4 linked regions of the Homo sapiens genome follow. The protein of the gene in region 2 purifies or fractionates together with the protein of the main gene of each other region. This does not show direct contact. Each region holds a gene or a part of one and is shown on either strand. Other genes may lie near its edges.

Region 1 (7,490 bases), on a different chromosome or scaffold from region 2:
TGGCTCCTGTAATCCCAACACTTTGGGAGGCCGAGGCAAGTGGGTCATTTGAGGTCAGGATTTCGAGACCAGCCTGGCCAACATAGTGAAACCCTGCCTCTACTGAAAATATAAAAAATTAGCCGGCAGTAGTGGTGCGCGCCTGTAATCCCAGCTACTTGGGAGGCTGAGACCGGAGAATAGCTTGAGCCTGGGAGGCAGAGGTTGCGGTGAGCAGAGATTGGGCCGCTGCACTCCAGTCTGGGCAACAGAGTGAGACCCTGTCTCAATAAATAAATAAATAAATAAATAAATAAAATAAGTCCAAACTTTACACATAATTCCAGGAAATTGCTACTCAGCTCCAAATATTCTATAAATCAAAATTGAAAATATTTGTTGCATTCCCCATCTTCCTAACCCACTTAGCATGATGGAGAGATGATAGAGCATAGTAATTTTGAGAGTGCACTTTGGAATCAGATCTAAGTAAATATTCTGTGTTCATCACTTATGAATTCCATGACTTTGGACCTCTTTGTGCCTCAATTTCCTCACCTGCAAAAGGGGACTGTTAATATCTATCTCGTGGAATTCTTTTAAGGGTGAAATGAGATGTCATATAAAAAATTGCATAATGCTTAGCACATAATTTGATAGCTTGATTAATGTATCTAGCATATATCATTATATTAAATCATAGGCTGAAATGATCTTTAGGAATTATTCCACTACTTTCATGCCTTTTATCAATGAACTTAAATGGAGTTAAGTGAGAAGGTTACTTTGCCAAGTAGGTTTGTGTATCGGGTCGAATGATGTCCCCCCAAAATTCATGTGCACCCATCTCAGACTGTGAATTTATTTAGAAATAGGGTCTTTGCAGATGTCATGAGTTCAGATGAGGTCATGGTGGAATAGAGTAGGCTCTAAGTACAACATGAGTGGGGCCTTTATAAGAAGAGGAGAGGACATACAGAGACGCTGAGACATAGAGAGAAGGCCATGTGAAGACGGAGGCAGGTATTGGGATGATGTAGTTACACGCCAATGATCACTGGGAACCACCAGAAGCCAGGGGAGAGAGGCATGGGATGGAGCATCTCTCAGAGCCCCCAGAAGGAGCCAACCTTGTCAACACCCTGATTTTTTTTTGTTTGTTTGTTTTTTTGAGACAGAGTTTCGCTCTTTGTTGCCCAGGGTGGAGTGCAGTGGCGCGATCTCGGCTCACTGCAACCTCCATCTCCTGGGTTCAAGCGATTCTCCTGCCTCAGTCTTCCAAGTAGCTGGGATTACAGGCACCCGCCACCATGCCCAGCTAATTTTTGTATTGTTAGTAGAGACGGGGTTTCACCATGTTGGCCAGGCTGGTCTAGAACTCCTGACCTCAGGTGATCCACCCACCTCAGCCTCCCAAAGTGCTAGGATTACAGGAGTGAGCCACTGCACTCGTCCAACACCCTGATTTTGTACTTCTAGCCTCAAGAACTGAGACAGAACACATTTCTGTTGTTTTAAGCTGCCCAGATAGAAACTACTATAGTTGATGACAGAATAAGAACTAGACTCCAGATTTTTTAACCTCTAGCCTAGACCTCTTTTACTCCATTGCTGCCTCCCCAAACCAGCAATAAACATTTATGGAAATTTACTTATTTGGAAAAAAATTGACACAATCTATAATTTTTAAGCACTTTAAGTTGTTGCCTGACACAATAGGCATTTAATAAATATTTTACTGTCCAGTTGATAAAATGATAGACATTAAAATGTTATATTTTGTTATACAAATCTAAGATATTGTTATGAACCATTTTTTACCTCTGCGTACACCTATGCACCAGACTCTAAATTTATTTACAAGGTTTATGTATTGAAGAATCACAAACCTCCATAACTCTCTCACTGCTACAATCTGAAAGATACACGAGGTTCACAAGCCCTGCCTGTTCCCTACTTCTAGGGGTGAAAAATTAAAAGGAAAGCAATCTGAACACCCTCAAGACTCTGAATCCTACAAGGCAGGGATGTTCTCATTTTTGCTGAGTCCTTCTACACTCATTTAGGAATACGCAGAAGGGAAGCCAGGAAATCAGGGGAGTTGCCCATTGCTCTAAAGGAAGTAGGTCACAGAGCACTGCTCCCACCCAGTCAGCCAGGGAAAAGAATGGGTGGTGGTGGGTTAACAGCTACAAAGGGAATGAGGGAAAGAAAGGAGGACCTGCCGGGCATGGTGGTTTACGCCTGTCATCCCAGCCACTTTGGGAGGCCAGCAGGTGGATCACCTGAGGTCAGGAGTTTGAGACCAGCCTGGCCAACATGGCAAAACCCCATCTCTACTAAAAATATAAAAATTAGCTGGGCACAGTGACAGGCGCCTATAATCCCAGCTACTCGGAAAGCTGAGGCAGGAGAATCGCTTGAACCCAGAAGGCGGAGGTTGTAGTGAGAGATTGCGCCATTGCACTCCAGTCTGGGAGACAGAGCGAGACTCCATCTCGATAAAAAAAAAAAAAAAAAAGAAAAGAAAAACAAGGGAGGAGCTGATTCACTAGAACAACTCTTAGAGTGACTCAGAAGCCAGCAGAAAATAGCTTGTTCTCCCACATCTGCTTCATTGTCAGGCGATGAGGCACTTCCTCATTGCATACACATAGGCAGAGCGAAAGGGAGGAGGAGGAAATGGGATTTTTCAAGTTCCTTTGCCTGCTCCAGCACCTAACACTCTGTATTTGTAATCATTTCAGACATTTTGTTTCAAGTCAATATTTATTGAGTACCTACTCTGTGCCTGGCCCCTCATTTTAGCTTTCAGATTGTCAGTTTTCAGAACACAAGGCATAATGCCTTTCTGAAGTTCAGTATACCCTGCATCATTACTCCAGATTCACTTACACTGCTATCGAGCACCTTCACTCATAGTCTTGCTATCCTTCATATACAGAGATGACCCTCCCAAGCCTAAAATCAACAGGGGGAGGCATAGAGCTGTCCTTCTGGCTCTAATGTTTGCTTTACCATCATCCACGCCCATTCTTAGTCCAGCATGTGAGAGCCAGTGTGAAGTGAGCAGAATATGGCATAAGTATGGAGTCATACATCCTTACTGGAAATTCTTTACCATTTACTAGCTCTATGACTTTATTTGACTTCTCTGAATCTCTATCTTCTCATCTGTAAATTGGACACAATGATGTCTATCCTACACTGTAGGATAGATTTCTCATACAGCACTGAAAATGACATCAAATACCATTAAATGAAAGTACATGGCACAGTGATAACATGATAAATACTTGTTTACTTCTTTCAGACTATAATCGCACAAACTGATCACATCCCTCAGTCAGACTGTAAACTGCATGAGGCAGGCTGCATCTGCCTTGGGGACTGTCTGCCTAGGCAAGCACTAGGTCCCTAATGCTGTCTTGCGAATTATAATTGCTAAGTTTAGGGATAATGTATTAAGTGTACTACATTATTTATGCATTATGAATATTCGTCTCAAATATTTATTATATTGTATTTTAAATAATGTGGTTATTGTAAATGTAACCAGCTGCATCAATCTGTGAGCTGACAGCCATTCTGTGGAAAAGGAATTCAGAAACTTTGACCTTAGGTAGGGATACAACTAGTTATACATCCACTCCCCTCTCTGAGTTATTTGGTCCTGCCTAAGACTTGCTGCCACCAAGATCTGCATTCCTGTGTTCACAAGGCAGACATTCCTTGCATCCTCTGTACTCTCCATTGTTTCAACTTCACTGCAAACACCATTCCCCACAATATAATGAGGCCAAGGAAAGAAAAAAGTCGCCTCAGCTGGCAAGCATAGGGTGGAAAAACCTGCCACACAAATTTGCAATTATTTGACTTCCGCCTGGAAGGCAGGTCGGCTGGGTTTATGTCCCCCAAAGTTAGTATCCTCTTCTGTACAAAATGTGGTTGAGAGAAGGGTGATCTCCAGGTGTTTCATCTTTGCACCCTTGCTTCCAGCACCACGCCCACAGGCGCTTCCAGAAAAAAGAAAAAAAAAAAGGGAGCAAGGAAGCCAGGTTTTTCAACAACGAATTCATTCTAATGCAGACACCAAAGCCCACTTCATTTATTAACATTCTGGATAAAATCCCAATCGATTAGGCCACCAGAGCCCTCCATTCCTAAACTCCGCGTACAGTCAGGTAAAAGCACGAAGCACTAGTCACGGTCCTGCCCAGACTTTTCACGCAGAGGTGGAAAGTTGCAGACCCCGAGCCGGGAGGGGCGCGAGCCCACCCTGAAGCCCAGGACCCAGGAGGGCGCTTCCTCCCGGAAGTGACGCGAGCTCAATCCCGGCCTTGCTCTTCCCAAACAAAAGGGATCTTGGGGCCCCGGGAGGAGCCTGAATGACTTTGGAGAAGCCCCGCCTCCAGCCGGCGCGGATTGGGGCCGAGGCTGGAGAAGCAAGGAGGCGATTGGCGCTGGTGAATGCCAATGCCCCCGCCGGGCGGCTGAGGGGGCGGAGCCTCAGCCGCTGTGGATGGGGAGTGGAGGCGGAGGGGAGCGGAGCCCGGAGCGTCGTGGAAAGGTAGGAGCAACTATCCCTGGGGCTTGGTGATGGCTGGGAGGCCGGGTTCTCAAGAGCAAAGCAAGGATAGGGGCACCGGTAGCCTCCCGCCGCCGTCTCAACGGCCTCTGGGCCCATCCCCTGAGGGGGCGGGGCCGTCTCCTCCACCTCCCGGTATTCCCCGAGGAGGCGGCTCCTCATCCTCCGAGGGTCCTCACAGCTACTTTTTGTCCCTCGTCGATTCCCAGCTCCTCAGAAGGGGCTTCCCTCTGACACCCCTCATTCAAAGGCACCTCCCACCCCGCACCTCAGCCTTGGCGGAGAGGACTCACAGGTACCGATTCTCTAGGCTGCCGCCCCCAACCCCATTTCGTACCCCCGGAAGGCCAAACATCCCTCCCTACACCTGTCCCTGCTCGCCAGGGTGGGACTGGAGCTGCTTTCCTCCGTAAGATAAAATTGGTGTTTCCCAAAAAGGAGGGATGGGGCGAAGCAAAAATCAAAGACCGACCTAGACAGCCAGCTTTACGGAGGAAGCGGCTTCTCCCACTTAAGTTCTTCCCATCCCCCATTCTCTGATGCTCAGTCTTCCTCCCGCAGCCCCTCGCATCCTCTGGCCTCTTGTGAGGAGTCGAGAGCTCTCCTGTTTTGGGACTGTTTTGGACTGTGAAAGAGGGAGAACTAGGACCTCCTCTCCTTCACCCTTTGTACCTTCCTTCTACTTTCTGTTCCTTCTGGGAGCACCCAGCCTCTAAGGGTTTCTTAGGTTTGAATTGCGTTTCATTTTTCCTTTTCCACCCTATTTCCTCCCTGAGAACTTGATGAAAAGCCATCTTATATTTCACAGTGAGGTGGGTGTGTTGGATATCTGCAGAGCTGGCTTTGTGTGGGCAGGAATGCAGTATATGTTGCTTGACAGTCAATGAATAACACCATGTTTTCAAATGAAACAGTATACATAAGTAAATAAGTAGCAGTGGATTAGGAATGAGTATATCCCAGTCTAGGGTGGGCTGGTCCATTGCTCAGGGAGACTGCAGTTAACCTTGAAGGTATACTGCAGGTTGAAACAAAAGACAGGAAGTGTTTGAAGAAAATTCAGGGTCAGTCATCTAGGTTTATGATTAATCTAGTCCTATGTCCTTTGGTAACTCTCTAACCCCTTTTTTATAGTGTCCTCCCCGCCCCCAGGAAACATTCATGTATATTTTGATTGGTTTTACGATCATCTATCAAAATTTAGAGGATGAAAAGTAAGAACAATTTTTAAATCTCAGAGATAAGAGTAAATAAAGGCAAGGTATTCTAGCTATTCATGTTTACCAAAAAGTGCCTCTTCTAGTGTGCTCCTAAAGGTTTTGTCAAGTGGTCTTCATTTCAGCAGGTGCAAAGTGTTGATTTTGACCTCATGTTAATGTCGTTGAATCCCCAGTAATCATCTATTGCTAGCGCTTTTATATATTAAAATTTACCATGTTTTTAGCATAGTTTCTTTTGCTTCCAATCTCAAGTCTACCTCCCCTCTGTCAGCTATAGCCAAAGCTGATGGCAATAAAATGCAAGGAGTTGGAATCACGGAGGGTGATTGTAATGACTGTTGTCTTTTACCTTCTTGATTAGACTTTCTGAAGGTAGACTTCCTAAAGATAATTACTTTTGAATAGTTAGGTTTGAAGTTTTCAGAGCCACTCGGTGCTCACAGGTCTTCTCAGTGATTGTTTCCAAATCTCCAGTAAGAAAGTACAAAGAAGAAACTGGAGGGTGTCTCTAGCAAACGCAATGTGTGCTGCAATAGAAGGGTAAGACGTGAGCTCCCAGCAATAACAGCAGAAAAAACTAAAAGCAGAACAGAAAATCCCAAAAAGATAAGTTGTATTATATCAACAGAGAACAGAAAATAAACTAAGGTAAGAGACTAAGCAAACCAAAGTTGTGATTGCCGAGGTTTAATAGGAAAAAGCAAATAATATTCTTTTATTATTTAGCACAGTAAGCAAGATCTGTTTGTTACACTTTTGGGTCTTGAAAATCTTTCCTTTAACCTTTTCAACACCTGTTTGGTCATGCTAGGTGAAGAAAAGCATAGTATGCAGAGGATAGATGTCTGATCTCTCTCCTTGAATTATAAATTCTTTGAGGGCAGATAGTAGTATTTTTTGTTTTTCATCTTTATATCTTTCACAGTTCCTAGTATATAGTATGACTTCATGAGTGTTTGTTTAACTTAGTTTGAGGCTGTCACCTTAGGGTAGACTGAAAGGCAATGTACTGATTAGATTTGGCACAATTTGTTAGTATAAACGGCCTACTTGTTGTCTTCATTTAACTTGATTTTCCCCATCTTCTGTCTTATGAAATTCCAGTGTCTTAAGTGACTAAAATTTTGAATTTCTTATAAAGAAATATCTGTGAGGCAGGGTGTGGTGGCTCATCCCTGTAATCCTTGCTACTTGGGAGGCTGAGGCAGGAGGCTTGCTTGAGCCCAGGTGTTTGAGGTTACAGTGAGCTATGATCATGCCACTGCACTCTCCAGCCTGGGCAGCAGAAAGAGACCCTGTCTCTTAACAAAAAAAAAAAAAAAAAAAGTTAAAAAAATATATATGTAATCTGCTAGTTAGAAAATACTATTTTACTGTCATGAAATTTGAACCAGACTTAAGAACGTAATGAGTGCTAATCATTTTAGGATTTTATTGTTCTAAATATCTGACCTGATAGGAATGAAGTGAATTTAGGAGAGATCACTAGGGACTGATTGCTGATTTTTGTTCAAGAATAGTTTCTGAGGCCAGGCTTGGTGGCTCACATCTGTAAACCCAGCACTTTGGGAAGCTGAGGCGGGTGGATCACGAGGTCAGGAGTTCGAGACCAGCCTGGCCAACATGATAAAACCCCGTCTTTATCAAAAATGTAAAAAATTAGCTGGATGTGGTGGCATGCACCTGTAATCCTAGCTACTCAG
Region 2 (7,026 bases):
CCTAGCCTTTCAGCCTACATCTTTCTCCTGTGCTGGATAGTTCCTGCCCTCGAATATCGGACTCCAAGTTCTTCAGTTTTGGGACTCAGACTGGCTCTCCTTGCTCCTCAGCTTGCAGACAGCCTATTATGGGACCTTGTGATTGTGTAAGTTAATACTTAATAAACTCCCCTTTATATATATCTATCTATTTATCATATTAGTTCTATCCCTCTAAGAGAACCCTAACTAATACAGAGGGGATGAAGGATCGCACTTTGTTTTAGTCTTTTACTAGATCAGGCTGGTATATCATAAAAGGAAAAAGCAGGTCTCTATGAGTAAAGATCTGGAATTACCTTGAGTCTTGAAATCTTCTTCAAAGCACCTCCTGTTATTGGTGAATTCCAGGTTCTCAGTGTAACTATACAATTCTGTGGCAGGAAAGACAGAACAGTCACATTCGGGAGATCCTTAAAGAAGAGGCCCAAAGTAGAGAGGGTGGCATGAAAGAGCTGAAGCTTCCAACACATTCCTGTGTCCAATGAATCCAAAGCTAGCTTCCTCCTTTTCAGAGCAACGTTAAAAATAGCCACTTGTGTCCCTGGGAGATTAAACCATCAAACCTGTCCTCTTCCTGCCAGCTGGCTGCTGCAGCAGAGAAGGCAGCCTTCAACATTTGGTGAGGGCCAAGAGGAGGACTGCAGCACAGAGAGCTTAATCTCATCACTCCTGTTTCTCAGGGCTGCAACTCCTGCTTTGTCAACCCAACCAGGAACTATCCCATCTCTAAGAGAAGAGGAGGGCAACACAACTCCTGAAACTTAGAGGAAAGATCCTTGTGCTGGATCAGGAAACCATGGCAAGGGCTGAAAAGTAAGTGCTAGATGGTTCTTCAGGGTTGGAACCAGTTCATTCTCTCCCTGCTAAGTTTCCTCAAAGGGTATAGAAGTTTAGATTCCTGCCCACAGCCACAAAGCAGAGGCTGCAAAAAAAACTCTAGAGAACAGCTATGGTTGTCAAAGGGCTGCTGTGCCCAGGAAAATCTAACTTTGCTAACAGCAGCCTCTCAATACAAAATGCAAAAAGCTTATGAGAAATAAAAATGCCAGCCACGTGTGATGGCTCAGACCTATAGGATTGTAATCCCAGCACTTTGAGAGGCTGAGGCAGGAGAATTGCTTGAGGCCAGGAGTTTGAGTCTAGCCTGGGCAACATAGCATGACCCTATCTCTACAAAAAATTTAAACATTAGCCAGGTGTAGTGGCACATGACTGTAGTCCTAGCTACTTAGGAGGCTGAGGTGGAGGATCGTTTGAGCTTAGGAGTTTGAGGCTTTAGTGAGCTATGATCATGTCACTGCACTCCAGCCTGGGGTAACAGAATAAGACTCTGTCTCTTAAAAAAAAAAAAAAGAAAGAAAGAAGAAAAGAAATAAAAATGCCCTTTCCTACTCTCTCTATCTCTCTCCAGAACATTGTATATGTACCCTCATCTTACAGAAGATGAAGAACTGAAATACAGAAGTCAACAGATGATAGAACAGATTTCCTTTAAATCTCTGCTCCCTACCTGAGACCCTTCCTGGAAATTTAACCAGGTCACAGGTAATTCACAAAGCAAGAGAAATTCACTTATGTTCCAGCCAGCTGTCTAATGGTTGAGAAACACCTTGTCTGGGAGTCAGGGCTTTTGAGTCTTAAGTTCCAGAATCTAGGAGTGACCAGAAGCAAATCCCATCACTGAATCTTAAATTCTTCAGTCATTAGTGGAGAGGTGAATATATATATTTTTAAGATTAAAGCACCAAAAACCAAATCAGAAAAGTGGGCAAGGCTCTTAGGTACTGAACTTTAGTCTTGGTCTTTTTATTTTTAAATTTTAGATTATGAATTTTTATATACAGGTAAGAACAGAATAGTACATTTAAGACACCTGTGTATTATCTTCTACCCAGGTCAAACAAATGTTAGCATTTGTTATATTTGCTTCAGACTGCTCCCCAGTCTATCTTATTCCCTTCTCCAGAGGCAACTGCTATAATGAAATTGGTGTGTATCCTTCACAAGCCTATTTTTCTACTTTTGCTATATGCACATATGCCTGTAAACATATGATATTGCTCTGTTTAAAAACTTTTTTATCCAAGCAGTATCCTATTGTATAAATTCCTTTGTTACTGATCCTTTGTCCCAATTTTATCTTTAGCATTTATTATTATTATTATTATTTGAGATGGAGTCTCACTTTGTCACCCAGGCTGGAGTGCAGTGGCGTGATCTTGGCTCACTGCAACCTCTGCCTCCCAGGTTCAGGCAATTCTCCTGTCTCAGCCTCCCCAGTAGCTGGGACTACAGGTGCATGCCACGATGCCCAGCTAATTTTTGTATTTTTACTAGAGACAAGGTTTCACCATATTGGTCAGGCTGGTCTCGAACTCCTGACAGGTGATCTACCCACTTCGGCCTCCCAAAGTGCTGGGATTACAAGATGTGAGCTACCGTACCTGGCCAAGCATTTATTGATACTGAAACATGTTGAGGCCAGGTGTGGTGGCTCACACCTGTAGTCCCAGCACTTTGGAGGGCCAAGGCAGGAGGATCACTTGAGCCCAGGAGTTCAGGACCAGCCTTGGCAACATGGTGAGACTCTGTTTCTACAAAAGATAAACAAAATTAGCTGGACATGGTGGCACAAAATTAGCTGGACATGGTGGCACAAAATTAGCTGGGCATGGTAGGGCATGCCTATGACCATAGGCATAGCTACTTGAGAGGCTGGGGTGGGAGGATCACTTGAGCCCAGGAGCTCAAGGCTGTAGTGAGCTGAGAGTGTGCCACTCAAGCGTAAGCAACAGAGCCAGACTCTGTCTCAAAAATAAAAAAATAAAAAATAAATATATTGATTTAGATCAATTATTATTTTAATGGCTATTCAATAGCCTACTGCACTAATATGCTATAGTTTATCCATTTCCCTACTGATGAGCATTGTAGGTTGTTTCCAACTTTTTACACTGATAAACAAGGCTGCAATAAACATCTTTGTACATTTTCTTGTGCCCAAGTGTAATTTTCTTTAGAGTGGATATCTAGGAGTAGACTTGTTGGGTCACAATATGTGCACATCTTCAACTTTGCAAGATATAAGCAAAATGCTTTTCAATTTTATACTCTGCTCCCCCCATGTCTAGCAGTGCATAAAAGTACTAATTTCTCTGCACCCTCACCAACCCCAGGCTTTTAAGTTTTGCACTCTGATGATTGTGAAATAATATTTTATTATTTTAATTTGCTTTTCCCCATATACTAATAAAGTTCAATATCTTCTCATATATTTATTGACCATTTGGCTTTTTCTTCTATAAATTCCCATTTATATTCTTTGCCCATTTCTTTGTTGGGTTGCTCATCTCTCTCCTCTCTTTAAAATATATATATATTTATATCATATTCCTATTATGAATTCTAATCCTTTGTTGGTTATTAAACTTAGCTCTCTATTTCTCTGTCACTCATCACAAAATTTATTCTCTGTGCTCATGCACAAGAACGTCTTTAAAATTGTTTGTCTCTTTTCTCTGAAAAAGCATGCCTCAAAGTATCACTTCCATGTGACAGAATATTTAAATTTCACACATCTCCACCCAAAGCTTGTTTATTAATAACTGGCATTCATAGCACATGTAACATGGAGGCCCTTAATGTGAGGAGATCACATTTACCCTAAGCTAAAAATCCAGACAGAGACAAGCAGGCCAGCACTGAAAGAAGAATGGAATTACTTAACCCCAGCTCATAAACATCCAAGCAGAACTCTACTATGATGGATGCAGGTGACATGTCCAGCCTTGCTCAGCTGGCCAGTTGACTATAGTTTTTCCTCGGACTTTGCTGAGATTTTAATAAGGGGCAGTTGCGAGAGGAAGAAGGAAAAGATGGAGGTAGAGGAGACAAAGGAAAAAGAGATGGCATGGGATAGAAAGAGGGCAGCAGAAAGAAGTAGGCAGGCAAAGATATGGGTGACAGGAAGAGAAAAAGAGAAGGAATATGGAGAAGATGGAGAGAAAACTGATTTGAGAGTGCACCAAATCAGTTATTTTCAAAGAGAATAAAGAAGAGTGAGCAGGAAAGAGTGATAGAATGACAGAATGAAGAATACCATAGCCAAGGAGAATCACAGAAGGAAATGTGAAGACAAACAAAGAGATATTTACCACTTGGATGGAGAGGAAAAGGAATGTGGAGAACAGCCTTTGTTCAACAGCCACTTGGTGAGAACAGACAAGCTTCCAGGGAGATCACAGGCCCCTTCCCTCTCCTCCTGGCCATTCTTCCACTAGCTACTGACCCATCTACCTCATACCTGACAACTCGGCTGCATGCCCATCTGCATCTCCATACTCAAACTCCAGAGTGGGACAGTCCACAGAGCCCTGTAACAGAGAAATTTTGTTGGTAACTGGGATAACTTGGAAAAAGGGGTTGCCAAGGGAAGACTGTACCCTTATTTATCTTCTTCCCCTCATGGAGGCCAAGGTTAGATCAGGGAGACAGTTAGGAGAGTCCTATTTGGGTCTTTCATCTCAGAGGTACCCTACGCCAAGCCAAAACTTGAGTCTCAGTGTGGGGAGGGGCTGAGGATTCCTATACAAAATCGGAAAGTCTGAATAAAGGGCCAGGATCTCAAACATATATGAAAGCTATGGTCTGTGTCCATATCTAATCTACATGAACACAGACCAGAGGAGCATCTAGCTGATTTATATAAAATTGAGACAGACAGAAACAAAGAGAACTGGATTCTAGCTTCAGTTCTGTCATCAACCCACTGTATGATATAGATCAAGTCTCATGCTGTGGATCATAGTTCCTTATTTTTAAAGAGGTTCTTTAGCTCTAATATTCTGCAACTTTAGGATTGTCAAATGATGCAACATCTCCACTCCAAGTTGTAGTAAAGATTACATTTCCCATGACGTTGTATGTATAAATTTATAATCCTAGTAAATATGTTTTAATATAATCCCATCTTCTAACTTAAACATTTTGGGATATTTCCTTCCTGTATATGTTCATACATATGAATTTTTAAAATTTTCAATCTCAGCTCTGTCACATACTATTTGATCTTGGACAAGTTAACCTCTCTGTGCCTCAGCGTGACATAAAAAATATACTGTTCTTTGCCCCTGGTTCCTGGTACAGAGCTCCTGAAACTCTTAGAAGTTCCTGAGTGATAGGAGTGTCAGTTATTCATAATGAGTCACTGTCAGCTTTACCAGAATTTATGCTCATGAGGTGACTTATGTTAGGAAAGACGGAGCACATGATTAGAGGGTTTAACTTTCAGCACCACCCCCACATCCAGGGAGGGGAGGGGTACTACAGATTAAGTTCAGTCATGTGGCCAATAGTTTAATTATGTCTAGGTAATGAAACACCATAGGAAAACCCAGAAACAACTAGGTTCAGGCAGCTTTTGGGTTGGGGAACAAACAGATGTGCTAGGAGAGTGCTGCCCAGGGAAGATAAGGAAACTCTGCATCACCCCAAACCCATACTTCGTCCTTCGCATCTCTTCCATTTAGCTGTTTCTGAGTCATATCCTTTATAATAAAATTATAATTCTAAGTACATGCTTTCCTGAATCCTGTGAGTTATTCTAGCAAATTATGGAACCTGAAAGGAAGATCATGATAACCGCTTAATTTGTAGTTGGCCAGGCTGAAGTGTAGATAGCTTGGGGATCCCACCTATGGCTGGTGTCTAACGTAGGGCCTTGTAGGACTGAGCCCTTAACTTGGGGGTCTGTGCTAATTCTAGGTAGTTAGTGTCAGAATCGAATTGAACTGTAGGACATCCAGTTGGTGTCAGCGAATTGTTGGAAAATGACCTGCTCAGTTTTCCCATCTGTAAAATGAGGATAATAACAGGACTTACTTCATAGGGTTATTTTAAGGACTAAATGAGTTAATATAGGAAAGGCACACGGCCTAGCACTTCGTAGCACTATGTGAGTGGTCACTCTATGATTTTAATATTATACTATAAAGGCATTCTTCTCACATTATTATGACTATTAGTTTAAATGGTTGTATAAATGGATGTACATTTATTTGTTTACTTAACTAGTTCCTTATTGAATATTTAAATGGTTTTTAATTTTCCTTTATTATATGCAACAAACTGTAATAGACTTACACTTTTTTCTATATTTAGGATATTTCCTAAGCATAGATTTTTATAAAGAAAATTAATGAATCAAATCTTATGAACATTTTAAAGTCTCTTTGTATATAAGTTGCTCCCCCAAAACATTATGCCAATTTATACTGTCAACAAAGCAAATTGGCCGGGCGCAGTGGCTCACGCCTGTAATCCCAACACTTTGGGAGGCCGAGGTGGGCGGATTACGAGGTCAGGAGATCGAGACCATCCTGGCTAACACGGTGAAACCCCGTCTCCACTAAAAATACAAAAAATTAGCCGAGCATGGTGGCGGACGCCTGTAGTCCCAGCTACTCGGGAGGCTGAGGCAGGAGAATGGCGTGAACCCGGGAGGCAGAGCTTGCAGTGAGCCGAGTTTGCGCCACTGCACTCCAGCCTGGGTGACAGAGTGAGACTCTGTCAAAAAAAAAAAAAACAAAAAAAAACAAGGCGAATCATGTTTTAATCCACTATAGCAAAGATTTCCAAACTTTTGGATTAAAAGGAACAGTAGGGAAAAAGAAAAAGGTGGAGAGTGGCAAATGACATAGGGTTGTTGCTGTTTTATTCTGATAGGTAAGGACTTTAAAAACTTTAAAAAATTCAAAAAATGAAAGACAGAATCTCAGAATAAAGAACAGCCATTAAAAATTGTTTTTCAAACTTTTTGGAAAAATGATACCTTTTACATTACGTCCCAGCACACACACACACACACACAAACTGGAACAAAAGTTTAACAAAATATTTACCTTTACTGCATGTGATGCAGTGATATTTTCTATTATTCTCTTTCTTTTCTTTTTTTTTTTAAGACAGGGTCTTCCTCTCACCCAG
Region 3 (7,185 bases), on a different chromosome or scaffold from region 2:
ACTGCTCTCCAGCCTGGGGGACAGTGCAAGACTCTCTCTCAAAAAAAAAAAAAGAAGACATTTATGGGGCCAACAAACATATAAAAAAAACCTCATCATTACTGGTCATTAGAGAAATGCAAATCAAAACCACAATCAGATACCATTTTATGCCAGTTAGAATGGCAATCATTAAAAACTCAGGAAACAACAGATGCTGGTGAGGATGTGAAGAAATAGGAACGCTTTTACACTGTTGGTGGGAGTGTAAATTAGTTCAACCATTGTGGAAGACAGTATGGCGATTCCTCAAGGATCTAGAACCAGAAATTCCATCTGACCCAGCAATCCCATTACTGGGTATATACCAAAAGGATTATAAATCATTCCAAAGGATTATAAATCATGCACACGTATGTTTATTGCAGCACTATTTACAATAGCAAAAATTTGGAACCAACCCAAATGCCCATCAACGATAGACTGGATAAAGAAAATGTGGCATATATACACTATGGAATACTATGGAGCCATAAAAAAGAATGAGTTCAGCCGGGCACAGTGGCTCACGCCTATAATCCTAGGACTTTGGGAGGCTGAGGCGGGCAGATCACCTGAGGTTGGGAGTTTGAGACAAGCCTGACTAACATGGAGACACCCCATCTCTACTAAAAATATAAAATTAGCCAGGCTTGGTGGCACATGCCTGTAATCCCAAATACTTGGGAGGCTGAGGCAGGAGAATCGCTTGAACCTAGGAGACAGTGGTTGCAGTGTGCCGAGATCGCACCATTGCACTCCAGCCTGGACAACAAGAGTGAAACTCTGTCTCAAAAAGAAAAAAAAAAAAAAAAGAATGAGTTCATGTCCTTTGCAGGGACATGGATGAACCTGGAAACCATCACCCTCAGCAAACTAACACAGGAACAGAAAACCAAACACCAAATGTTCTCACTCATAAGTGGGAGTTGAACGATAAGAACGCATGGACAAAGGGAGGGGAACATCTCACACCCGGGCCTGTTGGGGGGTGGGGGGCAGGGGGAGGGAGAGCATTAGGACAAATACCTAATGCATGTGGGGCTTAAAACCTAGATGATGGGTTGATAGGTACAGCAAACCACCATGGCACATGTATACCTATGTAACAAACCTACATGTTCTGCACATGTATCCCAGAACTTAAAGTAAAATAAAAATAAAAATAATGAATGATTCCCTAGGTTTAAATAAGGTTTTCCTAAGGTGTTGGTTTACTCTTAATGAAATTAAAGGAAATTTTGCTTTTTAATTCTATCACCTATTTTTTTTTAAAACTTCTCAGATTCATATCTCAGAAGTTCAGCTTTTGTTGTGTCTGGCTGTTTTCAGTTTTTTCCTCCCTTTGAAAAGGACACTCTCCTTCAACTTTTTCCATCAGCTCCTCTAATTCTTTTTCCTCTGATTCTAACTGTTGGGGCCTGATGCTGAAATGTTTTATCTTAGAAGTCTATAAAAGCAGTGTTTTCCTCCAATATAACTTGATTCTGTACTCCCGGCTTTTCTTGATATGTGATTTTCGTTGTAATCAGGAAACTTCTCACGCAATTGCTCAGAGAGATGTATTCCCTTGCTATACTCATAAGCATGAATACACTCTTCTTGTGTCTGATTAAATTCAAGCACTTTTTTCAAGTATGACTTTCAGGTTACCTACATGGTCTTCCCATAAGGAGAAGCAGTCACACAGCAGAAGGGGTTTTTTGCCTGTGTAGTAACTTGCTTAAGAAACAAGATTTTAATGTTTTATCAAATAATTCCCATGCTCTCTTTAATGGGTTTTTAATTGCCTAGAAAAACTGAGATTTAAAAGGGTTCAGGTTTTTATGTCCTGGTAACCTTCTCAATTGCCTTTAAAGTCTTTAATTATCAGTTTGGTTAAATGAGTAACTATTATTTTTACAATGAATATTATCTTGTTTTGATCAAATGTTTTGAGGCTTTTAAAATCTTTGACCAATGTCCTCAAAATCAAAATCGTAAATTAAGTCTCTGACTTATTGCTGGGGTTTATCGAAGCTATAAAAATTAATCACTGCAAGGTTGTAAAATATTTTTACAGCTTCCAGTCAGGTCATAGACTCCGGTATCACACCTCCAGCTCCTTGAAAAGGTCCTTATCAGGTGATATTAACTAATCCTTGTGCTTTTAAGTTATAGGGACTTACACATATCTCATCCAAAGAAGGCATCAACTCCTGCCAGTATCTGACACTAAACTGCAATTAACCAAAGCCTCATCGTTAGACTCAGGCAAAGGCGACAAAGTAAACTGCTTTCATGAGACACAGGGACAGTCTTGTGTTCAAAAATATTAAGATTCATTTAACAATTCTGCCTCTATCTGAATTAATATAATTTATTCTGTGCCTTGATACTAAATAATTTAAGTGTTTAGCTACCTATGAACTTCTTTTCCTGTTATTCTCAAAACTAGGCAGGGTTTATGACCTTTGTGTTTGAAATGTTGTTAATTCTTTCTGTTTTGTTTTACCTACAAAAGTTGAAACTCTTCAATCCCGCCATGCCTAGAGACTATAACGTAATGTTGTAAGGGCCAGTATTGAGAGCTAAAATTAGTTCAGACCCTACAAATCAAGGATGACACAGATGCCAAAACAGCTAAACAAAATGCTTGCATTTTGTATAGCTAATTGCAACAAGCCAAGATTACAGCAGCTCAATGCATAGAATTTATAGATAAGTCAATTTTGTAACCCTTGCCTTTTGGTTTTTGCCTCTTAACATTGCTTAAGAGGGGTTTTAAGGTTAATGAGTGCCTGCCCACCTCCTTCCCATCTGACCTAGAACGTTTAATTGGCTGTAACTCTTTTGACTCTAAGTCAGTTGGCCGCAGGAGGGACATGATGGACTCAGGGCAGGTAGCACACCACCCTGGCATTGATATGGGACAAAATTAAAGTTTGGACACTGATACTGTCTCTGGGATACCTTGACCAAAAAAAAAAAAAAAGTGGAATGCTGTTTTGAAGGCATGAGCCTAGCCATTCCCCATCTGCGAGCATTTGATTAGTAAAGCTTTCACCACAGGTCACTTCTCATGTTTTTGGCCTCTAGGCAGCAAGCAGCCAGACGTGAGCCAGTTGCAATAGCAGCATTATTGACAATAGCAAAAGGTGGAAGCAACCCAACTGTCCATCCACGGATGAATGGATAAACAAAACGTGGTATATATATATTATTCAGCCTTAAAAAGGAAGGAAATTCTAACATATGCTACTATATGGATGAAACTCGTGGACATTACACTAAGTGAAATAAGGCAGTTATATAAATACAAATGCTGTATGATTTCACTCATGTCAGGTACCCAGAATAGTCAGATTTGTAGAGACACAAAGTAGAATGGTGGCTGCCAGGAGCTGGGGATAAGGAAGAATGAGGAATTATTGTTTAATGAGTACAGAACTTCAGTACTGCAAGATGAAAGAGTTCTAGAGATGGATGCTGATGGTGGCTGTATAACAATATGAATGTACAACTGAACTGTACACTTATAAATGGCTGAGATATTAAATTTTATGTGTATTTTGCCACAATTTAAAAAAAATTAAATGAAAGTAGGCCAGGCGCGGGGGCTCACACCTGTAATCCCAGCACTTTGGGAGGCCGAGGCGGGCGGATCACTTGAGGTCAGGAGTTCGAAACCGGCCTGGCCAACATGTGAAACCCCGTTTCTACTAAAAATAGAAAAATCAGCCGGCGTGGTGGCGCATGCCTGTAATCCCAGCTACTCGAGAGGCTGAGGCAGGAGAATCGCTTGAACCCTGGAGGCAGAGGTTGCAATGAGCCAAGATCGCGCCACTGCACTCCAGCCTGGACAAGAGCAAGATTCCGTCTCAAAAAAGAAAAAAATAATGAAAATAAAAAGAAACTAACTGTGACTGAAGAACAACCCACATCAATGAAAACCAGTAGGGAAAGGAGACCTTCCCACTGCCCAGCTAATCATAGCCTGACCACCAGGCTGTGGTAACTGGAAACCAACGGCGTGGCAAGTGTAGGTCTGGGGCTCCGCGCAAGGAAGGACTGCAAGGAAGCCGCAGGTTAAAGCGGGTCAACCCGCAAAATAGGCTGCCACTGCGCAGGCGCCCATTGCGCCTACCAAGACACCTTGTAAACGTGCCCGGAAATGACGCCTGTAATGCTGAGACAGACTCCCAGAAGATCTGAGCGAGTCGCGTAGCTGAGCCCGGCAGGGGCTGGGGTGGTGCTGCTGCTATGAGCTGCACCATCGAGAAGATCCTGACAGACGCCAAGACGCTGCTGGAGAGGCTACGGGAGCACGATGCGGCCGCCGAGTCGCTGGTGGATCAGTCGGCGGCGCTGCACCGGCGGGTAGCAGCTATGCGGGAGGCGGGGACAGCGCTTCCGGACCAGGTCAGGCAGAGGGTAGGAGTCCAGTGCTCTCGGATTCTGGGCACTGAAGGGTGGAGAGCGAGGTAAAGTGGGAACTCGGCCTGGAATTTATTCCCGGTCTCAGAGGGCGGCGGTGAGACCATTTTCCTGGGTCGGGGCTGAGAATCCTGCCCTGGAGCCCTAACTTCTGCCTCTTCAGTTGCATCTGCCGCTGTTCTCTTTAAGGCATGCTTAGTCTGTCTCTATTTGTCCAGTATCAAGAGGATGCATCCGATATGAAGGACATGTCCAAATACAAACCTCACATTCTGCTGTCCCAAGAGAACACACAGATTAGAGACTTGCAACAGGAAAACAGAGGTTAGTCAGGCCTTTTCATATCTGGTAATAGTTTAAAGTTATTGCAAAATTGCCCTAAACATTTACAAAAGTGTACATATATTTCCAGGTCAGTACTTTTAGTAGGAGAGTCCTCCTGATCTGGCCCAGTAACAATAAAGTTTGTTAGATTACCCTTTTCAAGGTCATCTGACTAATATTGCAGCAGCTTACCAAAGAGGTGCTGTGTAGAGTTGGTATTATTGCATGGTTTATTTTTAAGCATCCTCAGATGTGTAACAAAAGAGTTCATAGCCTCATGGACTTAAAATTTAATGTTTAAGTATTAATATAAACACTGAAGGTAAGATTTAAGGTTTTGTTTATGTTCTTGTTTGTGCAAGGTGAAGCAGCAGAATTTTATTCTAAGGGTATATATTCTTAGGCTTGATTAGTACATTATTAATGATTGTGGTATTAATAGTTGTTTACCAGAGGGGTTTCACATATATCATTCTACTGTATTCTCATATCTTCATTTTTATCTACCACAATGCAGTTAAGAAATAGGCTCAGAAGAAGCTAAATGATTTACTTATGAGTATTAACCAAGCAAGTTACAGAACTGAACTCAAACACATGTCTTCTGATGATACATCCATTGTTGTTTCTGCAAGACTTTGCTTCTCTGCCTAGAAAGTTACCTTTCACATAGACTTTAACTGTTCAGTTTTGCGGACTTAAACATTGATTTACAACTTTAGATTCATATTATCTATATAGTGTTACAAAATTCCAACTGTTAAGACTTTGGATTTGGGAACTGTCTCTCAGACATCACTGCCAAGTTCTTTTATTTTTTGACAGAGCTATGGATTTCCTTGGAGGAACACCAGGATGCTTTGGAACTTATCATGAGCAAATATCGGAAACAGATGTTACAGTTAATGGTTGCTAAAAAAGCGGTGGATGCTGAACCAGTCCTGAAAGCTCACCAGTCTCACTCTGCAGTAAGAAACTTTGAATAAATTCGAAATGAACCAAATTGAAATCTTGAGATTGTTTTAGATTGTGTGCTTGTTTTTTTGCTTTGTGAGATAGGGTCTGGCTCTTGTCGACCAGGCCGTGGTGTAATGGCACGATCTCGGCTCACTGCAACCTCTGCCTCCTGGGCTCAAGCCATCGTCTCACCTCTGCCTCCGGAGCAGCTGGGACTACAGGTGCACACCACCACGCCCTGTTAATTTTTGTGGGGTTGTTTGTTTGTTTGTTTGTTTGTTTGTTTTTTGGTAGAGATGACATTTCGCCATGTTGCCCAGGCTGGTCTGAAACTCCTGGGCTCAAGCGATCCACCCACGTTAGCCTTCCAAAGTGCTGGGATTATAGGCATGAACCACTGCGCCTGGCCATGTGTGCTTGTTTTTGAAGAAAAGTAAGCTCATTTTCCTTTCATGTTTATCACATTTGTTGTTTATTTTGCCATGGCTTTGTAAAGATATGAATAGAAAGAAGGAGGATAGGGGCTGCTCAGATCCTTTTATTTGAGTGGGACTAAGGTTCCCCCTCCCTCACCAAGATCTCTTTTGAAAATGTTCATTAATTCTTAGCGCTCCCACCAAACATAATGCCAGTTAGTGTTGAAGCTGCCTGGTAAACACTTGGTTGGTTATTACTTATACATTTAACTTAAGCTCCTTGCTTGTAAGGCGCATGAATTCACATTTTATTCCTAACATAGTACCTGACATACAGCAGGCAGTCAGTAAACCTTTTATAAACTGAACCACATAGTATCATACTATGTTGTTAGGGGAGAGAAGTATGGTTTTTTAAAAAAACAAACATGGCATAGTTTCTGTTCTTTGCTAATTTGGGAGACTCAGTAATTGTTCTTATGTTTATAGGTGCTTCATGGTTGTCATTGTACATTCTTGTGTACTGTATCATTTAATTCTAGATGTATAGGGTTGGAGCCTACTACTTCTGTGAGATGTAGTGAAATATAAGCTTCATCTTAAATTCCATTGAATGCATTTTACTGACTTAAAAGTTTTAGGAAACAGATATTTTAAATATTTGAATGGCTTTCATCTGGAAGAGAAAAATAGATTTTCTTCTCGTATGGAGGAAAAAACTTGAACCTTGAAAGAGACAGAGTTTACTCAGATAGATAAACTTTCTAAGTGATATGTCCAAAGATGGAATAAAGCACCTTGGAATGTAGTAAGCTTCCTGCCAGTAAAAGTATTCAAATTTAAGTTAAACAGCCACTTAGAGATAGTATCCAACATCCAATGGGTAGTTAAACTACAATTGATTTTTTTTTTCCATTTCAAATCTTTTTATTGGAGTGTGGACCTACTGGGGGATTGATGCACTGGACATAGATAATTTTCAGAAATGAAAATAACATTGCTTGCATCGAATCAGATTTCACCCACAAAAATGACTAAGGCCTTACCAGAGTTG
Region 4 (7,026 bases), on a different chromosome or scaffold from region 2:
TGTATCACAAGAACAGGTGCAGCTTTAGTGCACTAAGTTTGAAAAGCTGAATGAAGCTTACTATAGTAAAATACCAGTTATTAAAATTGGCTTGCAGAAATTCGTCCAATATAAGTAAACAACCAATAGCAACCAGGTGTAAATAGTTTTATAGGCTAATTCTACCAAACCTTTAAGGAACATATAATTTCTGTGTTCTAGAACTTGGGAAAAGATGGAGAGTTCAAAACTCACACCGTATGCCTAGTATAACCTCAATGCCAAACCAGACGTGGCACGCACAGAAAAATAAAATCAGACCAAAGTCATTTGGAAAAAAAATTCCTATATTTATGATTCAAAACTCAGTTATTTTATAAAATAATAATATTAAGTGGATAAAGAAACGCCAGTTGTACTATCAGCTAAACATTAGAAACCTTCTCATCAGGCCAGGTGAGGTGGCTCATGCCTGTAATCCCAGCACTTTGGGAGGCCAAGGCGGGCGGATCACCTGAGGTTGGGAGTTCAAGACCAGCCTGGCCAACATGGAGAAACCCTGTCTCTACTAAAAATACAAAATTAGCCAGGCATGGTGGCACATGTCTGTAAACCCAGCTACTCAGGAGGCTCAGGCAGGAGAATTGCTTGAACCCGGAAGGCGGAGGTTGCGGTGAGCCGAGATCACGCCATTGCACTGGGCAACAAGAGCGAAACTCCGTCTCAAAAAAAAAAAAAAAAAAAATCAAAATCAGAAAGAAAATGCTTGTTAAAACTTACGTTATTCTCTCTGATTCAGAATACCTAGAGCATGGACTTGAAACTAGGTAGTTTACAAAAAACAAAACAGAAAACATTTGTATTATTCCATTTTATTTTAGAAGTCCTGGCCAATGCACTAAGCAATAAAAAGAATTAAAACGTATAAACATTGAGAAGAAAAAACAAAAATAGTTTTGCAAATGACTTGATTATGTACTTAGAAAATATGAAGGAACTGAAAATTTATTGTAGCCAGTAACAGGAATCAGAGTGTTTGCTGTAAGAGAAACAAAAAATTGTATATATCAGCAATAACCAACAGAAGCTGTAATGACAGCTGGGTACAGTGGCATGCACCTGTAATCCTAGCTTCCCAGGAGGCTGAGGCAGGAGGATTGCTTGGGCCCAGGAGTTCATGGCTGCATTGCGCAGTGATCAAGGCTGTGAATAGCTACTGCTCTCCATCCTCAGCAGCACAGCAAGACTCCATCTCTACAGAAAGAAAAGAAAGGAGGGAAGTGGGGAGGGAGAAAAAAAAGAAAGAAAGAAATTTAATGGTAGGTACCAAGGATGGGGATACCATTGACCAGAGAAAAGGAAGGGAGGGAGGGAGGGGAAAAAAAAAAAAAGAAATTTAATGGTGGGTCCCCAAGGATGGGGATACCATTGACCAGAGAAGGGGTAAAGAAGAAAAAATGATGGACAAAATATGTTTAAATGTTGGCACTATTTGGACTGACACTTTTAACCATTATTTACTCTTTGTTAACTGTTTGGAGTTAGTAAAACAAATACATTCTCTTTTGTTAATTCATACATAGATATTCTGCCTCCATGGTGGCCTCTCTCCATCCATAGACACACTGGATCATATAAGAGCCCTGGATCGTTTACAGGAAGTTCCACATGAGGTAAACTTAATTTAAAAAAGAAGAAGAAAGGAAAAGAAAATATAACCACATTTTGAGGATGATAAAGTATGACTGATAATAATTTGTAACATGTACTTATTTTTCTTGGCCAGGGCCCAATGTGTGATCTGTTATGGTCAGATCCAGATGATCGTGGTGGATGGGGTATTTCACCACGTGGTGCTGGCTACACATTTGGACAAGACATTTCTGAAACCTTTAACCATGCCAATGGTCTCACACTGGTTTCTCGTGCCCACCAGCTTGTAATGGAGGTATGTACTTTCCTGACAGAATGATCTTTATTTCAGATTAGTATATACTTCTGTAATAAGGCATTATGACTTAACTAAGAAACATTCCTCACCATTTATTACCTAGGTGAAAAGAGGAAAAACTTGCTGGTTTTAGCAAGTAGGGAAAGCACTAGTAGACCAGAGCAGAATTATAACTCATTTTTGAAATTGAGACTTAGAAAAAAGTTACAAAAATAGTACCCCATAATTCCCTGTATGCTTCATTCAGATTCCTGACTGTAAATATTTTACTATATTTGCTTTATCATTTTGTGTCTCTCTTCCTCTTCACCCCTCACACTTTCTTCTGAACCATTTGAATATCTGTTGCAGACAGATACTCCTTTACTACCAACTTTCTATGTGTATTTTGTAAAATTAAGGACACACTGTCACATAACCACCGTATAGTTATCACAGTTGGGAAATTTGTGTTCATATAGTACTGTTATTTAATATGAACACTTTATTCAAATTTTGCTAATTGTCTCACTAATGTCTTTAATAGCAAAATTTAATTTTTTGTGCATACTGTATGTGCATAGTCGAATCCAAAGATTAGGTTGTATTCATTCTACTTTGATGTGGAAATCCTCCGATTTTCATTGTTTTCCACATTCTTGACATTTTGGAAGAGTAGGAGCATTTTATCTTACAGAAATATCCCTCAGTTGGGGTTTGCCTGATGTTTTCCTTGCAGTTAGGGATTCAATGTATGCATTTTTGGCAGTCATGACATAGAAAGATGGTGTGTCCTCCTCCGTGCATTGTATCAAGTGGTCCTAAAATCTGCTTGTCTCAATGCTGGTGGTGGCAACTTTAATTGCTTAGTTAAGATGATGTCTGCCAGATTTCTCCACTATAATATTAACTGTTATACAACTACTAAGGGAACATAAACAACATAATCCCTGCAGACCAGTAGGGAGTGGCTTCAAGATGTTTAGAGAAAACTTCGCCAGCCCAGTAGAAACAAGGGAGCATGATAAAAAAAACACAAATTTACATAGTAAAAATAAATTTAATTATATCAGTGATTATAAGAAAGAGACTAAAATTTTAGCCTGAAAGAGACTCTTAGATTGGATAAATAATCAAAATTTAGCTGTTATTTGGGATGTACCTAAAACATAAATGATTGGCTGGACAAAGTGGCTCATGCCTATAATCCCAGCACTTTGGGAGGCCGAGGTGGGAGGATCTCTTGAGTCTTGGAGTTTCAGACCAGCCTGGGCAACATAGTGAGACCTCATCTCTATATAAAAAAAAAAAAAAAGTCAAAAAGTTAGCTGGGCATGGTGGCATATGTCTATTGTCCCAGCTACTCAGGAGGCTGAGGTGAGAGGGTCACTTGAGGCCAGGAGGTTGAGGCTGCAGTGAGCTATGATCGTACCGCTGCACTCCAGCCTGGGCAAAAGGGTGAGACCTTGTCTCAAAAAAACGAGGAAAAAGAAAAAGACACCACAAACTAGAGGTAAGAGTTGGAAAATGGTATATTGGTATATCAAGTAATTAATCAAAATATCAAAAATATAGCTAATGAGCTGGCGTGGTGGCTCGTGCCTCTATTCCCAGCACTTTGGGAGGCTGAGGCAAGCGGATTGCTGGAGCTCAGGAGTTCGAGACCAGCCTGGGCAACATGGTGAGATCCTGTCTCTACTAAAATACAAAAAATTAACCTGGTGTGGTGGCACGCACCTGTAGTCCCAACTACTCGGGGCTGAGGCAGGAGAATTGCTTGAACCCAGGAGTTGGAGGTTGCAGTGAGTCTAGATCGCACCACTGCACTCCAGCCTGGGCAACACAGGATGTGTGTGTGTGTGTATATACACACATACATACACTAATGTATGTATATATATGTATACATATATACACACATGTATGTGTGTATACATATATGCACACGTATATATACACATATACACACGTATACATATATGCGCACACATACATGTATACATACATATATACGTGTATGTATATACACATGTATATACACATGTATACATATATGCACACACATATATACATATATACACGTATATATACATATGTATATACACATACATTAATTAGCATGTATGTATACACACTATATATAATACTATAGCTAATAATATGAATGAGATAGGCTCTAATAAAAGGTATTATTAGAAATAAAGAGATTATTGATGAAAACTGGCCCAGTTCTCTAGGAAGAAAGTATTCTAAATTTGTATTTACCTAGTAATAGCTTCAAAATATATAAAGAAAAAATTGGCATAATTCATGAGGGAAAATTGAGAAATTAATTATGATTGTGGGAGAAATTCAGTACACATCCTTGCCAAGATTTCAAGCATAGATACGGCAAAACAACAATTAGCGAGCTGCATTTAACAGACTCCTAGGCCCACGAATTGCACAGTATTCTTTACAGGTACACAAACTATTAAAGATGGAGACCTTATATAGTAATATAGACGACTACATTTCCACAGAGAGTACCTGTAGTTTTTGAGTTTAGTTTTTTTTAAATGTGTCTGTGTCAAAATCATAATATTATAATGAAATAATGAATTTGTTTTTATCCTGCAGGGATACAATTGGTGTCATGATCGGAATGTGGTTACCATTTTCAGTGCACCCAATTACTGTTATCGTTGTGGGAACCAGGCTGCTATCATGGAATTAGATGACACTTTAAAATATTCCTTGTGAGTAACTGTAAATTTTAATTGTATATACTTTCAGAAGGAAAATTTTAAATGTTAAAAATAGAAGATTTCTGTTTCTGAAATTGGATGAGGAGTATAGCAAAGCCCCTCTCCAGCAAAAATAACCATTAGCTGGAGAACATTATTTTTAAAAAATAATTTTTCAAAGCTTTTGGAAATTGTCCTAAGGGCATACAGCAGGTGGAGAAACAGTTAATTCAAGAAAACCTACTAAATCTCAGTAATAATAGCCGTAGTCTGTGGCATTTGAGCTATGACTTGCCCCCTCCAACTCCTCCCAGATCCCTCTCACAGAAACGACTACAGGCGCTCTACGCTGGGTTGGTATAGTCAGGAGGCTAAGGGATTCCCCCTCTTCATCAGCTCCCAGGGCTGGGGCTGTGGGTTCACTCCCAGAGATCAGATGCCAGCATATCTCACCTCTCCTAGTCTGGAGTTACAAAAGCTCTACTCCTGGTAGACACAGTCAAGCAGGCTGAGGCCCCCTTCCCTGCCCCAGCTCCTGGGGCAGAAGCTCTGCTCCAGGCATGCATGGCAGATGAGAATGCTGGGTTTCCCAATGCTGTTACCCCAGCACCTGCTTATAAACCAGGTGGTATCACTGAGCCTGCACTGGCACAGAAGTTCTGCTCAGGAGGAAAGGCAGGTCACAGAAGTTCCTCAGCTCTGCCTCAGAGGACTTATCTTACTTAGGTGATGGAGAATTCCAAATCTGAGTGCTTTGTGGAAAGCAGTAGATGTCATGGTGGAGACCAATTAAGAGGGCTGTAATAGCTCCCATGATACTAGGAGCAACATACAAAAGAGCAGAGCAACATGTTGTTCAACAAATAGCACCAGGGAAAAAGCCAAGAAGAGCCCTTCTGGGATCACAGTCAGCCCTGGGGGACAAGAAGGCTGTGCACATGCACTAGCCATACCCACTCAGGAGCAGTCAAGAGTAGGATGTGGGGTATTCATATAATATTTTCAAGCCACACATAGATTGTACTGAGTTGAATAATGTCCCCCCAAAAAAATTCATGTCCACCCAGAACCTCAAAATGTGATGTTATTTGGAAATAGGATCTTTACAGATATAATTATTAAAGATGAGATTGTACTGGATTAGGGTGGGCCTAAATCCAATTCGAATGGGATTTTAGTAAGAGGAAAAGAAACACACACAGGGGAGAATGCTGTGTGAAGCCAGAGATTCAAGTGATGCATCTACCAGCTAAGGATTGCCAGAGCCATCAGAAGCTAGGGAGAGGCTAGGAAGGATTTTTCCTAGAGCCTTCAGAGAGAGCGTGGTCCTCCCAGCATCTTGCTTTCAGACTTGTAGCCTCCAGAACTGTGAGAGGATAAATCCCCGTTGTATAAGCTATACAGTTCGGTAATTTGTTACGGCAGCCCCAGGAAATGGATAAGTAGATTGATCAACAAATGGTGTAACCATCACTAGTATGTGAGGCTTAAACACAACCTCTCATCATTGACTGAACGACATTCAGTTACTCTGATCCAGGAGCACCTCCTAGGTAGTCAGGCTTTAAAATAAAATCACACTCATCCCTGACAGTCTGGCAGAATATGTGCATGCCCAAGGTTATACCCTCTCTGGACTGAGTGCAGTATGAAGATCCAACTATTAGTCCCTGGCTGAATGGGAAGCCAAAATATAAACTCCTTCAGCTTTGATAGCAATCTGCAAGTCACATAACATTTCCGGTGGCCATTAGGGTGAGCTTTAAGATCTAACTGGCCAAGGGGGCTTAAGTACAATCTTTGATCAGTAAGTGGCTTATGCCTACCCAGAGACAGCCCCTCAGTAGCCAGGCTGTGAAAGATTAAAAGAAGTAAAAACGGTCAGGCACGGTGGCTCATGCCTGTAATCCCAGCACTTTGGGAAGCCGAGGTGGGCGGATCACCTGAGGTCGGGAGTTCAAGACCAGCCTGACCAACATGGAGAAACCCAGTCTCTATTAAAAATACAAAATTAGTTGGGTGTGGTGGCGCATGCCTGTAATCCCAGCTACTCAGGAGGCTGAGGCAGGAGAATCGCTTGAACCTGGGAGGCGGCGGCGATCACGCCATTGCAGTCCAGCCTGGGCAACAAAAGTGAAACTCAAAAAAAAAAAAAAAAAGTAAAAACATCCGAGCAGGGCCACAGGGGCTGCACACTATGGGGGAAGTAGACTTTACAGTTAGTTCAGCTAAGTCACTAAACAAAAATAATAAACCACCAAAAAGACAAGATCAGTCCCCAAGGACATGAATTCCAGAGCTACTGCAATATGTTATCTATAATGTCCAATTTTTCAACCACAGATTATAAGACATGGAAAGAACAAGGAAGTGTGACCTCTACACAGGAAA

The links.
Region 1: the proteins of STRIP2 (region 2) and CTTNBP2NL purify together in Homo sapiens (affinity purification with mass spectrometry; 2 studies listed by BioGRID and IntAct, with this or other methods). This does not show direct contact.
Region 3: the proteins of STRIP2 (region 2) and SIKE1 purify together in Homo sapiens (affinity purification with mass spectrometry; 3 studies listed by BioGRID and IntAct, with this or other methods). This does not show direct contact.
Region 4: the proteins of STRIP2 (region 2) and PPP2CB purify together in Homo sapiens (affinity purification with mass spectrometry; 5 studies listed by BioGRID and IntAct, with this or other methods). This does not show direct contact.

What each region holds. Positions count from the first base shown.
Region 1 is NC_000001.11:112,391,724-112,399,213, forward strand, and holds the start of CTTNBP2NL (CTTNBP2 N-terminal-like protein), read left to right. Parts: upstream 1-4,490; 5' UTR 4,491-4,549; exon of another isoform or gene 4,550-4,862; intron 4,863-7,490. UniProt on the Homo sapiens protein: Regulates lamellipodial actin dynamics in a CTTN-dependent manner. Associates with core striatin-interacting phosphatase and kinase (STRIPAK) complex to form CTTNBP2NL-STRIPAK complexes.
Region 2 is NC_000007.14:129,437,411-129,444,436, reverse strand, and holds part of STRIP2 (striatin-interacting protein 2), read right to left. Parts: intron 4,416-7,026; coding exon 4,346-4,415; intron 414-4,345; coding exon 339-413; intron 1-338. UniProt on the Homo sapiens protein: Plays a role in the regulation of cell morphology and cytoskeletal organization. Required in the control of cell shape. Calmodulin-binding scaffolding protein which is the center of the striatin-interacting phosphatase and kinase (STRIPAK) complexes.
Region 3 is NC_000001.11:114,777,683-114,784,867, reverse strand, and holds the start of SIKE1 (suppressor of IKBKE 1), read left to right. Parts: upstream 1-4,182; 5' UTR 4,183-4,260; coding exon 4,261-4,419; coding exon of another isoform or gene 4,420-4,431; exon of another isoform or gene 4,432-4,481; intron 4,482-4,652; coding exon 4,653-4,758; intron 4,759-5,583; coding exon 5,584-5,726; intron 5,727-7,185.
Region 4 is NC_000008.11:30,788,818-30,795,843, reverse strand, and holds part of PPP2CB (serine/threonine-protein phosphatase 2A catalytic subunit beta isoform), read left to right. Parts: intron 1-1,562; coding exon 1,563-1,652; intron 1,653-1,765; coding exon 1,766-1,927; intron 1,928-4,528; coding exon 4,529-4,647; intron 4,648-7,026.